4 linked regions of the Homo sapiens genome follow. The protein of the gene in region 4 purifies or fractionates together with the protein of the main gene of each other region. This does not show direct contact. Each region holds a gene or a part of one and is shown on either strand. Other genes may lie near its edges.

The links.
Region 1: the proteins of ANP32A (region 4) and PDLIM5 fractionate together in Homo sapiens (co-fractionation; one large-scale study listed by BioGRID). This does not show direct contact.
Region 2: the proteins of ANP32A (region 4) and ANXA5 purify together in Homo sapiens (affinity purification with mass spectrometry, with the first as the bait; one large-scale study listed by BioGRID). This does not show direct contact.
Region 3: the proteins of ANP32A (region 4) and VBP1 fractionate together in Homo sapiens (co-fractionation; one large-scale study listed by BioGRID). This does not show direct contact.

What each region holds. Positions count from the first base shown.
Region 1 is NC_000004.12:94,654,442-94,657,941, forward strand, and holds part of PDLIM5 (PDZ and LIM domain protein 5), read left to right. Parts: intron 1-18; coding exon 19-199; intron 200-2,985; coding exon 2,986-3,106; intron 3,107-3,500. UniProt on the Homo sapiens protein: May play an important role in the heart development by scaffolding PKC to the Z-disk region. May play a role in the regulation of cardiomyocyte expansion. Isoforms lacking the LIM domains may negatively modulate the scaffolding activity of isoform 1.
Region 2 is NC_000004.12:121,672,981-121,676,480, forward strand, and holds part of ANXA5 (annexin A5), read right to left. Parts: intron 1-3,500. UniProt on the Homo sapiens protein: This protein is an anticoagulant protein that acts as an indirect inhibitor of the thromboplastin-specific complex, which is involved in the blood coagulation cascade.
Region 3 is NC_000023.11:155,233,460-155,236,900, forward strand, and holds part of VBP1 (prefoldin subunit 3), read left to right. Parts: intron 1-2,769; coding exon 2,770-2,908; intron 2,909-3,441. UniProt on the Homo sapiens protein: Binds specifically to cytosolic chaperonin (c-CPN) and transfers target proteins to it. Binds to nascent polypeptide chain and promotes folding in an environment in which there are many competing pathways for nonnative proteins.
Region 4 is NC_000015.10:68,814,396-68,817,895, forward strand, and holds part of ANP32A (acidic leucine-rich nuclear phosphoprotein 32 family member A), read right to left. Parts: intron 1-3,500. UniProt on the Homo sapiens protein: Multifunctional protein that is involved in the regulation of many processes including tumor suppression, apoptosis, cell cycle progression or transcription. Promotes apoptosis by favouring the activation of caspase-9/CASP9 and allowing apoptosome formation.

The sequences.
Region 1 (3,500 bases), on a different chromosome or scaffold from region 4:
CTCTTTTTCTTCTGTCAGAGGACCATTCTTAGTGGCACTGGGGAAATCTTGGCACCCAGAAGAATTCAACTGCGCTCACTGCAAAAATACAATGGCCTACATTGGATTTGTAGAGGAGAAAGGAGCCCTGTATTGTGAGCTGTGCTATGAGAAATTCTTTGCCCCTGAATGTGGTCGATGCCAAAGGAAGATCCTTGGAGTAAGTATTGGAAACGTTTTTATTCTGAATGAGTTTTAAAGTAGAATAATTTTTTGATATGAAAGTCTTCTATCACTTTAACTTTTTATTTTCTTCTTGCTTTATGCCCTCTCTGCTTTCGGCACTATTTATTATTGTAAAGCAAAACTAAATAGACCTCTGTGGAAATATATCGGACTCATGGGGTTAGGTTGTCTTTGGTTTTGTCTCACTGAGTGCTGGCTTGTCTGGTGAAAGTCTAGCCACTGTGGGGAAAAAATAATTTACTGTGGGTGTGCTTCCTCAACAGGAGCCTGTTTGCTCAGGAATGAAGAGGTCGCATAGGACCACACACATCTGAGTTCTTAGAACTGACACCTTCACTGTTTTAAATTAAATTCCATAGCTTTTATAAGAGCAGTATTTCCCTACTTGTCAGAGTTCAAGCACAGGACACTGATTTCATGAAATATATAAAACATGAGGTTTATAAATGATATATTTTTCTTGAATACATACAGTGTTTAAAAATATAACCTCAGTTTTATGAGAGTGCACATGTGATGGAAAAATAATTTTTTTTCCTTTTTTGCAAAAAAAGGAGTAATTTAGGAATCAGATACAGTACATAATAAATAATGAATACATGAATTTCTTGCTCTGGAATACCTAGTTTCCAATGATAAAGTAAGGGTCAGGCATACTTTATGGTGACTAGGAGCTGGAATCTGATTTCAGAAGAAGCCAGAGTACCTGGCTTCACACAAAAATTGGACATGGCCCTGCTGAACTCTAATATACTCTCAATGTGAAAATATGATAATGAAACTCTAATTATTGTTAATTGAGAGAATAGGTAGTATGAATTATTGAGTAGTCTTAAGATATCTCTTAGGATATCCTTAAATATGTCTGAAACGTTGAAGACACTTAAAATTATATATATGTCACCTGAAATATTTCTAGATTATTGATTTGTGTAATATGTTGGGAACAAAGAAGTGGAATGGTTCAGACTGTACCTTCCCAAATGATAACAAATAATTAATAGAATATTCATTAATACTGTTTTAGTGTATCAAGGTATTCTATAAATGTTAGAATAACAAAACAAAGTGAAGTTAGAGTCTTAGACCCAAATAAAGTTCTGGGAAATGGAAATCTCATACTCATTGCCTTGGAGATGGGCCAGAACTTCAATAGCTTGTCTAGATTGTATTTTAGTTATTTGATTACCTGTTAAAGATTTCTCTCAAGGATGGAAAGGGAAGAATATTCTGGAAGCCTTGGGAGATAGTTTGATTCAATATACATCTTCTACAAATGTTCATGGTGAATTTTTTGGATCTAAATGTCTGTTTCTTCCCATTGTCCTTCAGTAGTGAACTGTGACAATTTCTATGGCTAATAAGTCTATATTATTTCATTTTATTTTGATATTTTTTATAAAAGAAAATAGTTCACTCAAGCACAATTAGAAAACACAAAAAATTTAAAGAATAAATTTAAATGACCTAAATATTTACCAATCACAGATAATTACTGTTAACCTTATGATGTGTTTTTTTCTAGTTTGCTCTTTATAAGTAATGTGTTTACAAAATTGTAATCATGCTTTATGTATATGATTTTTTGTGATAAATATTATAGAAAGAGTATTCACTACTCATCCAAAATTATTTTAATGGCTCCATCTTTCTCTCAATCCAAAGAAATGATTTCTTGTAAAACCAACACCCAAAACCTCTTTTACTAACTAATATCTGGCCCAAATCTTTATAACTTGGTATGTTTAACCATTGGGCCATTGCTGACTAGAATATGGTCCAAATTTTACACATTCGAGTCTGTGCTTAGTGCCATCTTAGCTGATTTCCAAAAGCCTAAACACGTGTTAAACTGATTGGATTACATTATATTTTTATTATATTTTATTACATTATATACATTTATATACATTATATACATGTAATATATACAACTATATATAATTATGTATATTTTATTATTTTTATTTATTTATTTATTTTTTTGAGACGGAGTCTTGCTGTGTCACCCAGGCTGGAGTGCAGTGGCGCGATATCGGCTCATTGCAAGTTCCACCTCACGAGTTTATGCCATTCTCCTGCCTCAGCCTCCCAAGTAGCTGGGACTACAGGCACCCACCACCACGCCCAGCTAATTTTTTGTATTTTCAGTAGAGACGGGGTTTCACCGTGTTAGCCAGGATGGTCTCGATCTCCTGAACTCGTGATCCGCCCGCCTCGGCCTCCCAAAGTGCTGGGATTACAGGTGTGAGCCACTGCGCCCGGCCCCATTATGTTTTGTTATTAAATTATATATATTATATTATTGCTTCTAAAATGCACCAAAGTATAGGTTTGTTTTAATTTTTAAATGCTTCCTCCTTCCCCCAGAACTTTTGCAGATAATACCATAAAACCTTGGTAAGTTAATGTTTCCTGACACCCTTTGAGAAGAAGCAGAAAGTTTTGTAGCAAGCATTTATGAAATGCTTACTTTATTCACTGTACATATAATGTATAAATAACATAGTGATCATTCTTTAAGTTTATTGATTGGCATTTGTAAAGAACACACGTCTAAATATGCATCCGTTTAGATGATTTGTGAGTCTGTTCTTAAGTATCTCTTGTTACTTTGAGGGAAAGCTCAAGACAAAAATGAAGTATGTGTGCCTACTTTGGATTAGCTCTACAGGGATTTACTGGTACAGATATTAGAATAAACATTTATGTATTTATTGTCATCTTCTTTTTTTACATCCAATTACCTTTCTGTAACAGGAAGTCATCAGTGCGTTGAAACAAACTTGGCATGTTTCCTGTTTTGTGTGTGTAGCCTGTGGAAAGCCCATTCGGAACAATGTTTTTCACTTGGAGGATGGTGAACCCTACTGTGAGACTGGTAAGATCAGGGAGCCATTTGTTTCTTGAATTTTGAATAAAGGTAAAACATTAACCCTTATATTACTATAAAGCTCAAGAAAATATTAGGCAAAGTTATTTTCTTAATTGTTTTGGAAGCATTTAATGCTGCTCTAAGCATGTAGAAAAAACTATGTAGATTTTTTTTTTTCTTTTGAGACGGAGTCTCACCCTTGTTGCCCAGACTGCAGTGCAATGGCCCAATCTCGGCTCACTGCAGCCTCTGCCTCCCAGGTTCAGGCGATTCTCCTGCCTCAGCCTCCCGAATAGCTGGGAATACAGGCATGTGCCACCATGCTCGGCTCATTTTGTATTTTTAGTAGAGACAGGGTTTCGTCATGTTGGCCCGGCTGGTCTCGAACTCCCGACGTCAG
Region 2 (3,500 bases), on a different chromosome or scaffold from region 4:
GACTGGGAAAGGATTTAACTGGAAGCTAAGTTGTCTGCCTTTTCTGTTTTGCTTGTTCTATAGCTGTTCAATAGCACATGAGTAAAAGTACACTTCATATTTTCTCTTTACAACTGAGATTTAACCAAGGCTAGCTATAAAATGTTTTCATATTTCCAAAGATCACAATAAATTTTTAAAAGATTGTGGGTATAGCACAGTGCCTGGCATATAGAAGCACTCAATAAGTAGTGGTTGAATAGTTTGAGTGCCCATACTTCCTTTTTGACATGGGGAAAAAATATGCTTTCTTGTGCACGTATAGCTGCCTAAAAAAATAAGCTTATATACAAACATCAACGTTAACTCTGAATCCACTTATTGACGTGAGAATAATTTATTAAAACCCAAAGAATCAACCTTTACAATGACTGTACTATCCTTTTATTCATTTCAAACTAAGTCTACATATTAAAGCAAGATGAATGCAATTTGCTGAGGCTGCTACTTGCAGTTGGCCTTATACCCACAAGCAGCAATCCAAATAAAGACAGGAAGTGATAATAACAGGCTTGAATATAGAAGTTTTGATCACAGTATATTTAAAAATGTAGATTATGGTGGTAAAGATCTATTTTTTATTATATTTCTGGAGAATAAGAAAAAAATGAGACTCATGTATCTTTATGCTCAATTTTAAAATTAATTATTTTAAAGATAAAAATGAATAATATCAATTCTGGCCATGTGAACATGCTCTTAAAACCTGAAAAGACAGTAACTCTGAAAGTCATGCATGCATCTAAACTTTAGAACTATATCATGATGACACAGACCTTTCTTAAAATAACTTTTAAAATTTAATTACAAAAACAACGCAAGTTCATTGAGAAATTTTATAAAACTAAGAAAGAACAAAAATAAGAAAATAGAAGTTGCAGGCTAGGCATAGTGGCTCATGCCTGTAATCCCAGCATTTTGGGACGCTGAGGCAGGTGGATCGCTTGAGCCCAGGAGTTCAAGACCAGCCTGGGCAACCTGTCAAAACCTGTCTCTACTAAAAATACAAAACTTATCCAGGCACGGTGGCAGATGCCTGTAATCCCAGCTACCCGGGAGGCTGTGGCAAGAGAATTGTTTGAACCCAGGAGGCAGAGGTTGCAGTGAGCCTAGATCATGGCACTGCACTCCAGCCTGGGCACGAAGGAAAGGAAAGGGGAAGAGGGAGGGGAGGGGAGGGGAGGGAGAGGGGCGGAAAGGAGAAGGGAGGGGAGGGAGAGGGGAGGGGAGGGAGAGGGGATAGGAAGGAGAAGGGAGGGGAAGGAAAGGGGAGGGTAAGGAAATGGGAGGGGAAGGAAAGGTGAAGGAAAGAAAAGGAAAAAGGAGAAAGGGGAAAGAGAAAGGAAAGAAAAGAAAAGTTGCTATTTAATATCAATTTCCTGAGGGTGCTAGTTACTACTTCTGGTATGTTTCTACATGTAGATAAAATATACAAATACATTAACACCTAAATGGGTAAAGGACTCATCTTGTACAATATCACAGACATTGATGCACACACTTCTTATCAACTGTTTTAAATGTCTAGAAATGTTCTCTAGTAGGTACAGGAGTTAAGCCTGTTATATGGGAATAATTGGTGAGATGTCAGTTATTTTTACCACAATGTTTTAATTTTCTTGGGAGAATTATGTTTGGGATCAATATCTACTGTAAAACTATTATTAAGTAATCATATGCAATAATAATGATGGCTTCTTCATGTAAAACAATGATATTTAACAGTTTTGTTTTAATCTAAGTATCCTTTCTCCTAAATGAGGATGCCCAATATTCATGGATCCATCTGGATGAGGGACCCTTACACCCCTTCCCTAAGCTTTACGGTTCAGCCTGAGTACAGTTTCATAAGCCCTGGTTCAGTGCAAAGGATGAGTCTTTGGAGTCAAAACAGATGTGGTCTATCTGCAAGATCTCAGATGAACTACTTAATCTCCTCTTCAGCCTCAGTGTATATAGTCATTAACGGAGATTATATAACTAAGATAATGCACTGAACAGTGTCAGGTAATCAGTAGCAAATGCCCAGTAAAAGTAAAAAGTGCCTGATTACTTCTCCTTCTCCCTCTTTCCTCTAAGAGTTCAACTCTCCCTCCAGAGAAAGAATAAAACAAGGATTTACTGGGGAAGAAGGTAAATCTGTTTTAATGCATTAAAAGTATTAAATCAATTTAACACATTAAAAATGTTAAAAAGTGGATTATCTACAAAACGTTCAGTTCCCAAGTGAATGACTCACTATGGCTTATCAAACCTCTCAAATAATAGAAATCTTCTTAGTGCCAGGTATCAGTAGAGACAAAAATGCAAAAGCTTATAAAAGAGCCCTTTAGCTGTCTCAGCTTACTCTCAATTAAGAAATCTCAAATTCTCACTAGTGATAACAGTCCAGCTGCCCTTGCTACGAGGTACAAGTTGGTGTGTTCCTTTTTATAATGCCAAAAGATTATTTGTTTTCAACAGGTTTATTAATTAATAATAATACATTTGAAAGAATCAAAAATAATAGCCAGTGTAACATGTTCTGTATTGCTCCTAGTCACTGGAAGGCTAAGAAAAGCTTGGATTCCATTCAAGGGATACTTTAAAGTAACTCCATAAAGCAGTTTTCACATGTACAGTCTCACATGTACTCTCAGGGTTCTGAATGGTTATATCCACTGCATGACACGTAAGTGTCACCTATACAGCCTCAGTAATCAAAGGACCAAGAATGCAGGCATTACCTGAGAGCATGTTCAAAATCCAGACTCCCAGCCCCTGCCCAGACCCATAGAATCAGAATCTGCAATTAAAGGTCCCAGGTGCGCCACATGCCCATGAAAGTTTGAGCAGCAGTGCTATCCAGTAAGTGCTCCAAGGACAGAAATCAATGAAAACAAGGTTAAAATGTACTGTTTTCCCCTCAGGAGCCTCGTGCTGCAGCAATGCTCTCATTACATCACCAACTATGCTGGGAAATCTGCCCTCTGCCTGTGAATGCAGGCCTCACTGCAGACATCTGAGAGGACTAGAGTTGGTTTCTTACACTGTGACCCTGAAAAGCTCCCAGAACTCCTATCCTACTCTTGACAGTAGGAATGAGAGAATCAGCACTATCTCCTAGCAAAGCCACAACCAATGCTTGGAAAGCAGTAAGATCACCTCAGTACTGAACAAAGCCCCTAACAGGAGTACAACTCTGTAGGGTTGCTCTAGCCCTCTTCCCGAAAGAAGGTGGAATTAAGCTAGATCTATGCTTGAGTTGATATTTAATAAGCCCTTTAATGATAGAGAAAATCAGGGAAGGCACTAATACTCAAGAACACTGAATATCTTACAGTGAAATATTCTTATAGTGAAATATTAATATTCAATAACACTGACTATCTTCTAGTGAAAGAGAAAGAGCTTTGGAGTCAGACAGGCCTCGTTAGGAATTCCAACTCCACTGCTATTCAGTGGAAGCCATGGGTTTGTTT
Region 3 (3,441 bases), on a different chromosome or scaffold from region 4:
TTCTCTGCTCTTAAGGGCTCATATAACTAGATTAGGCCTACCTAGGCAGTCTGTATATTAAGGTCAGCTCTGACAAATGATGTAAATATCTCATCAGAGTCACAGATTCCAGAGATTAGAATGAGACAGCTGTTATGGGAGCCATAATTCTTGCCTACTATAGAAGTCAGTCACAAAAGAGCACATATACTGTGTCATTCTGTTTATGTAAAGTTGTAATACAGGCAAAACTATGCTGTAAGTCAGGTTAATGGTTACCTTTGCGGTGGGGGTGCTGGTGGTAACTGAAAATGTTCACAAGGAAGCTTTGGGGTGTTGGTGATAACCTGTCCTTGATCTGGATGCTGGTTCCATGAGTGTGTTAAGTTTGTGAAAATACATCAAGCTATATATTTATGATATGAATACTTTTCTATATGTATATAATATTAAATATAAACAAAAAAATCAGAAAACTGCATAAAGCAAAGTGTAAGTGAACGAATCTGTTGTCAGGGTTCAACCGGAGAAATAGAACCAGTAGGATATAGCTAACCTGCATAAACTTGTGTGCAAAGGTTCAGGTTAATATGTGTGTACCTCATGGTTTCATACTGTTACCTCCAATTCAAATTCAGGACAACAGAGTTTTCACTTTAGTTGTTCCTCTGTTTTTTTTTTTTTTTTTTTTTTTTTTTTTGAGACAGAGTCTTGTTCTGTCGCCCGGGCTGGAGCGCAGTGACGTGATCTTGGGTCACTGCAACTTCCGCCTCCTGGGTTCAAGTGATTCTCCTCCTTCAGCCTCCTGAGTAGCTGGGATTACAGGCACGTGCCACCACGCCCAGCTAATTTTTGTATTTTTAGTAGAGACGGGGTTTCGCCATGTTGGCTAGGCTGGCCTTGAACTCCTGACCTCAAGTGATCCACTCATCTCAGCCTGCCAAGTGCTGGGATTACAGGTGTGAGCCACCGCGCCTGGCCCCCCTGTTTCTTCTATATCAAGAATCCTGGTTTTCAGAAATACCAAGGGTGATAGAATTAAGCTAGACAACATTACTATTCACACGCAAAGCATTCTTAGAATAACACCACCCAACACTGTTACCACTGACATTTTTGCATATGTTCTTCCTGTCCTTACACATTCTTTATAAGGTTGTTCCCACATTGTTGGAGCACAGAGCCATTATATACTGTTTGCTCTCTCTCTTTCTCTCTCTCATCTTTCATTTATCCTAGTTCTTCGTGTAAATATTGAATGCACATCATAGTCTTTATGTTGATGTCCCCCCAGTCATCATCCAGTCATTTTGATTGTATGTTACTCATTCGTCTGATAAGTAGATTGCCTTAAGATTTATGGGAATGATATTCCCTGAGTTATCTCATGTTGCTGACAACTTGTCTGTGGCCTTTGTACTTGAAATTCAGTTTTGCTGGATATAATATCTTAAACTCACATTTTATTTCCTTGAGCATCTTATACAGTGCCCCATTTTCTTTTGTTGTAAAGCATCACTGTCAAAAAGTGTGAGGGCAAACTGATTTCTTTCTTCTATGAGTGATGTGTTCTTTTTGCCTGGATGCTCAAAGGACTTTTGGGTCAGTTTCCCCCAGGTATACAAAGTACCCTTTCATTTCATTTTGCGTGTCATTTCACCCAGTGTGTGTGTGTGTATGTGTGTGTGTGTGTGTGTGTGTGTGTGTAGTATGTGCATGTGTCACATTTCAGGAACATTTTGTTGAAATGAAGGATTTAGAAATTTTTTTGGTCCCCTGCTTTGGTTTTTTTTTCTTTGTGGATTCTTGTTATATTTATGTTCAGTCTTTGCTTATGTTGAATATTTTTGTCCTATCTGAATTTTAATACAGTTTTCTAATTATGGATTGGATTATTTGGTCAATAAGTATTTATTTGGCATTTACTTTGTGCCAAATACTTTCATGTTGTCTTGTTTAATCCTTACAACAATCCTTTGAGTAATTTTAAAATTGCATTTGTGAGATGAGGAAAGTGGTTTAGGAAATGCCAGTGGTAAGTCAGGTGATAGGGAGAGTTCAAAGCTGTAAAAGGTGTGGCTTCCCAATTCCAGGGTACATGCATCCCTGAATGTTGGCAGTAACACTAGATCTTCAGAATGACAGACACATTACCTTGTCTTAATCCCTAACATCTGTCAGAAGTAGTAGGAAGGGACAGGTAAAAGCTAGCTGTCTTTTTTACCTGGTCAAATATAGATGATAATAAATGTCTTTGAAAAATTTTAAATTAATATCATATCTCAAGCTCAGAATTTATTTAAATTGATACAAACAACACTATTTAGTTTCACGATGGAGGTAGTAGAAAGATAGGATTTTGTATCTAAACATACTGGTTTCTTATCCTGATTCTCCCATTTACCCACTAGCTATGCCAGCTAAGGAAACCTGAGCCTTCATTTCTTTAACTGTGAAGAAGACAACTTTGGCCTCAGCAGGGTTGAGGATTAAATGATACAATGTATGTAAATATATTCTTTAACCAAGGGGTCAGCAAACTTTCTGTAAAAGGTCAAATGGTAAATATTTTTGGTTTTGTAGATCACATGGTCTCTGTCTCAACCACTCAGTTTTGCCATTGTGGTATGAAAGCCTGAGTAGAGAATAGCTGGGCTCCAGTGAAACTTAACTTACAACAAAAGGCAGCAAGCTGGATTTGACCTGAGGGCTGTAGTTTGCCCACACTTTACTCTAACCTATAAAGCTCTGTGTAAATATTGAGTAATTGTCATGACTTTCTCTCTTCAGGCTAATGTAATGCTTGAATATGATATTGATGAAGCTCAGGCATTGTTGGAAAAGAATTTATCGACTGCCACAAAGAATCTTGATTCCCTGGAGGAAGACCTTGACTTTCTTCGAGATCAATTTACTACCACAGAAGTCAGTATCCTTTCTTAAAACAAAAAGCAAGGGAAAAAAGGAGAAAGATTTTTTTAAAAAAACATTCTTTCATGGGCAGAGGGAGAGCATTAGGAAAAATAGCTGATGCATGCTGGGCTTAATACCTAGGTGATGGGTTGATAGGTGCAGCAAACCACCATGGCACACGTTTACCTTTGTAACAAACCTGCACATCCTGCACATGTACCCTAGAACTAAAAAAAAATTAGAATACAAAAAACCTCCCACATTCTTTCTTACATTGCTTTAGTGGGAAGAATTTCCTTATTAGGCTAATATAAAGGTTATAGATTTTATAAGATAATAAATAAGATATTCGGAACTAGTACTTAAATAAGTTTGTAGATAGATTAGTGATTTTGAAATGTGATGTGGAAACAGCAAATTCACATAGGTGAGTAAGTATTTTTCTTCCAAATATTTTCCCAAGACAACTTTATAACTGGTTAAATAGTTTAATTTCACAAGCATTTAAGGGTCTCCTATGTTCCTGCAACTGTGCTAAGACATATGGGG
Region 4 (3,500 bases):
CAAAAATTATAAAATAAATAAATAAAAAAGGAAACAAGTCTCATACTGCTATGGGGAAAGAAAAAAAAAAAGAAAGATGGCCAACTGTGTAAGTCTAGAGTAAGCCACCTTGAGAGGCTGGTGGTGCAGCAGCAGCAGGAAAGAGGGAATTGGGGCTGTGGTGTGCTGTCATAACACAGGCTGCTGTTATGGGGACTAGGATTTGTCCCCTTGAATTTATCTCCTCCTCCCCTTGACCTGGCCAATTTTATAACCATTCCTTCCGTTCATTAGCTCAGGCACAAGACGCTAGAGGGAAAAACTTCTGAAACTCAAAGCCACTATGCTGCTGGTTCATTCCCCAGGAAACACGCATGGTAGAAAAGCAGCAGGCCAAAAACTAGAGATTCCAGGATTATCTGTCATTTTCAAAGATCTGGGCTCTGAAAGGCTGATGTGAGCCACTGGGTGCACAGCTGCCCCGCCTTTGGTTCAAGCCTCAAAGCTCTAACCGTTGCAACCCAAAGCTCTTTCTATCTCTGAGATGACATCTAGAACCTAAGAGTGACCATTCAACTACAAGATACACAGAAGGCTTTGACATGTTCTGAGTACACAACGAAGAATTTCAGCTGGCTATACAGAACTCTAGACGAGAAGTGCTTCATACTAAACCAGTAACAAGGATAATTTCTCTTCCTATGGAGGTTCCTGGGTTGAGGCTGATTTCCACTAGGCACCAATTACTTACAGGGCACAGAACACATAAAAGGACTTAAAAAGACCCTGAGAGTACCACCCAAATATATGGCTTGCCATTTGCTTAAACAAAGCAAAACACTAGATCCCTGGGGCCCACCCTCCAATCTACTGAACCACCTTTTCAGCAAACCTCTTCTGCAAAGGGGGCAGATAGTAAACTTTATCAAGAGCCAAAATTAAGAACACTACATAGGGACTTTTATAACAAGAGAAAAATCTAACACATTTCCACAATTCTTTTATTGATAAAGTTCAGAATATATTGAGTACAATTTTTTTTTTGTAACGAGATCTGTTAACGAGACAAGTGGATTTCTTATTTTTTGGGAGAATAACATTTCAAGTCATTGGGATTCAAAGAGTGTTCCATACCATCAAATTGACTGCAACGTTTATATGTACAAATAATTCTTAGCTCATGACTGTACAAAAATTGGGAGCTCAGTTATAGTTTGGTGATTGCTGTGGTACTCCTGTGATTGGGGTGGAGCCCAGGAATCTGCATTTTACATGCCTCTCACGTGATTCTGGTAATGGGCCATGGACCCAATGGACTATCCAATCCTCGGAATCTCTGTCCACCAAAGGGGCCTGTGGTTTTGCAGTGCGAGAACCCGGCTGTGCCACCTACCAGTTGCTCAACCTCTCCAAAAATCAGATGATTCATCCTCACAACAGGGGTGGCATTGCACTGCTTGGCCTACCCTTAAAGAGTTGCTGGGATGATTAAGTGAGATGATCCATGAGGTGCTATGAGCATACTATGTCCCAGATACTAAAGACATGCCAGTTATGTTGAGTTTTTTTGGCTGCAGATGCAGACTGCCTGAGCAGCTCCTGCTTGTCTTCTCCTTACTCAAAATGTGTCCCCCAGCACCTTGAAGGCCAGATCCACTTCAACCTAACCCACTGTGATGTGCTAAAGCAAACTCAGTGCAAGGCTTCATAAAATGATAATCCACAGCCCCTGGTCCTGAACCTCCTGGCCCTCTAATATCTCCAACCAGGATGCTATCCACTCTTCATTTCAGCGTCTTCAATAATAGAAAACTCATTCTCTTTCTACGGTGGCACCACTCCAAAGCTGGAGAAGAAAAAGCTCTTCCTTACAGTATCTTAAGAAAAAAAGGGTGTTTCAAAGGAGGCAGTAGAGTGTAGAGGTTGAGTATGCAGACTGGCTGAGTTTGAATCCTGGTTCTGCCACTCACTGGTCACATGATAACCCCTGTATGCCTCAATTTCCATATGCACAATGACGATGATAATAATAATACCTACCTCATAGTGCTGTTGTGGGGACTAAATTAGTTGATACATGTAATCCACTTAAGAAATGTGCCAGACACAGCGTGGTTGCTATGTAAGCACTAGCTAATATTGTTATTATCCTAAACCATGGAGGAGCTCAAAGTAATGCCTGGAAGCACCCTGATATGTCTCCGAGACTAAAACTGTCATATAGACAGCATATACTGAGGGCCATATCAAACCAATTTTGTCATCATTTACTGATTAAATAGGATTATTCCGTTTTACAGGTGAAGAAACAAAGCTTCAAAAAGGTAGGTTAAGCTCACCAGCCCAAGGTCACAAGGGCAGGTAAACGTATCCTACCTCCTTGTGGCAGGAGGAATTCAAACCCAGGTCTGTGTAATTCCTAAGCCCATCTTCATCATGGAGCCCCTCAGACTCGAAACTACTATCAGCAGCAGAACTCAACTGACTATGACCACAGGGGAACTCAGGCTCAATTTTCTGCCTGCGAGTTCCTGGTTGGCTTGCATAAACTGTAGTTAATATCATGCTACTTGAACCCAATTAGGCAGTAAGTCAGCCTGGAAAACATCATGCGATGTATTCCAAAGGTCAAAGTAAAAGCTGGCTTCCAAGGCAGCCTCTGCTGGACACTGCCATGAAAGTTAGTTTCTGCACAGATACCAGAGTTCAGCTCGTGAGGTGCTTAACCAGCACCTATATCGGCTTTTTAAAATTCTCAGAGATGCCAGCATCGGAGGACCCGACGCGACGAATTGCCTGGCTCCTAAGTCAACATCCGGAGAAAGGCGGTTTACTTTTTTCAAAAGCAAACCTTCATCCCTCTCTTTCGCTTTAGGATCTCATTACTATTGTAGCTGCCTTCTCCCAGGCAAAAATAAAAGGGGGAAGGAGCAGGTTTAGACCGAGGAGGAGGGTTCCCCTAGCCTGCAGGGCGCTGCAACATCCACCTGAAACACGGAGCTCGACCTACCTTCCCGGAGAGCCCAGCCCGGGAGGGCGTTTCCCCAACGGATCGACAACTCTTCCCTCCCGGGGAACAGGCTGCTGTCCTTGGCTTCAGTCAGGGCCACTAGAGTCGCGTGCGCGACACCCCTCACCCCCGCCAAAAGAACCTCATGTTTAATGTTCCCCTTACTCTATCACTTCCGCCGAAAGAGCAAACACCAGAGCGATCGGTTAGTCCTTAAGGCCACATTTAACTACGTCTGAGCGCCTGCAGGAGGAACGGCGAAACCCCGGAGAGGAGGCGGGGGAGGCAGGGAGCGCGTGGGGGGGGGCATTTGCACAGAGGATCGTCGTCCTCCCGGCGCCGCGGCCGCCGTGACTCTCCAGCACAGCCTCAGGCCGTTGGCGCGGGGCGGAAACCCCCATCGGGGCTCATAGCACAACTGGGGGTCCCCAAAGCCGGCTCCCCCTGCCTCCTCCGCGCGGGAGGCCGTCGGGGTGATGGCGCAAGACTCCGCTCCCCCCGCCCCCCACAG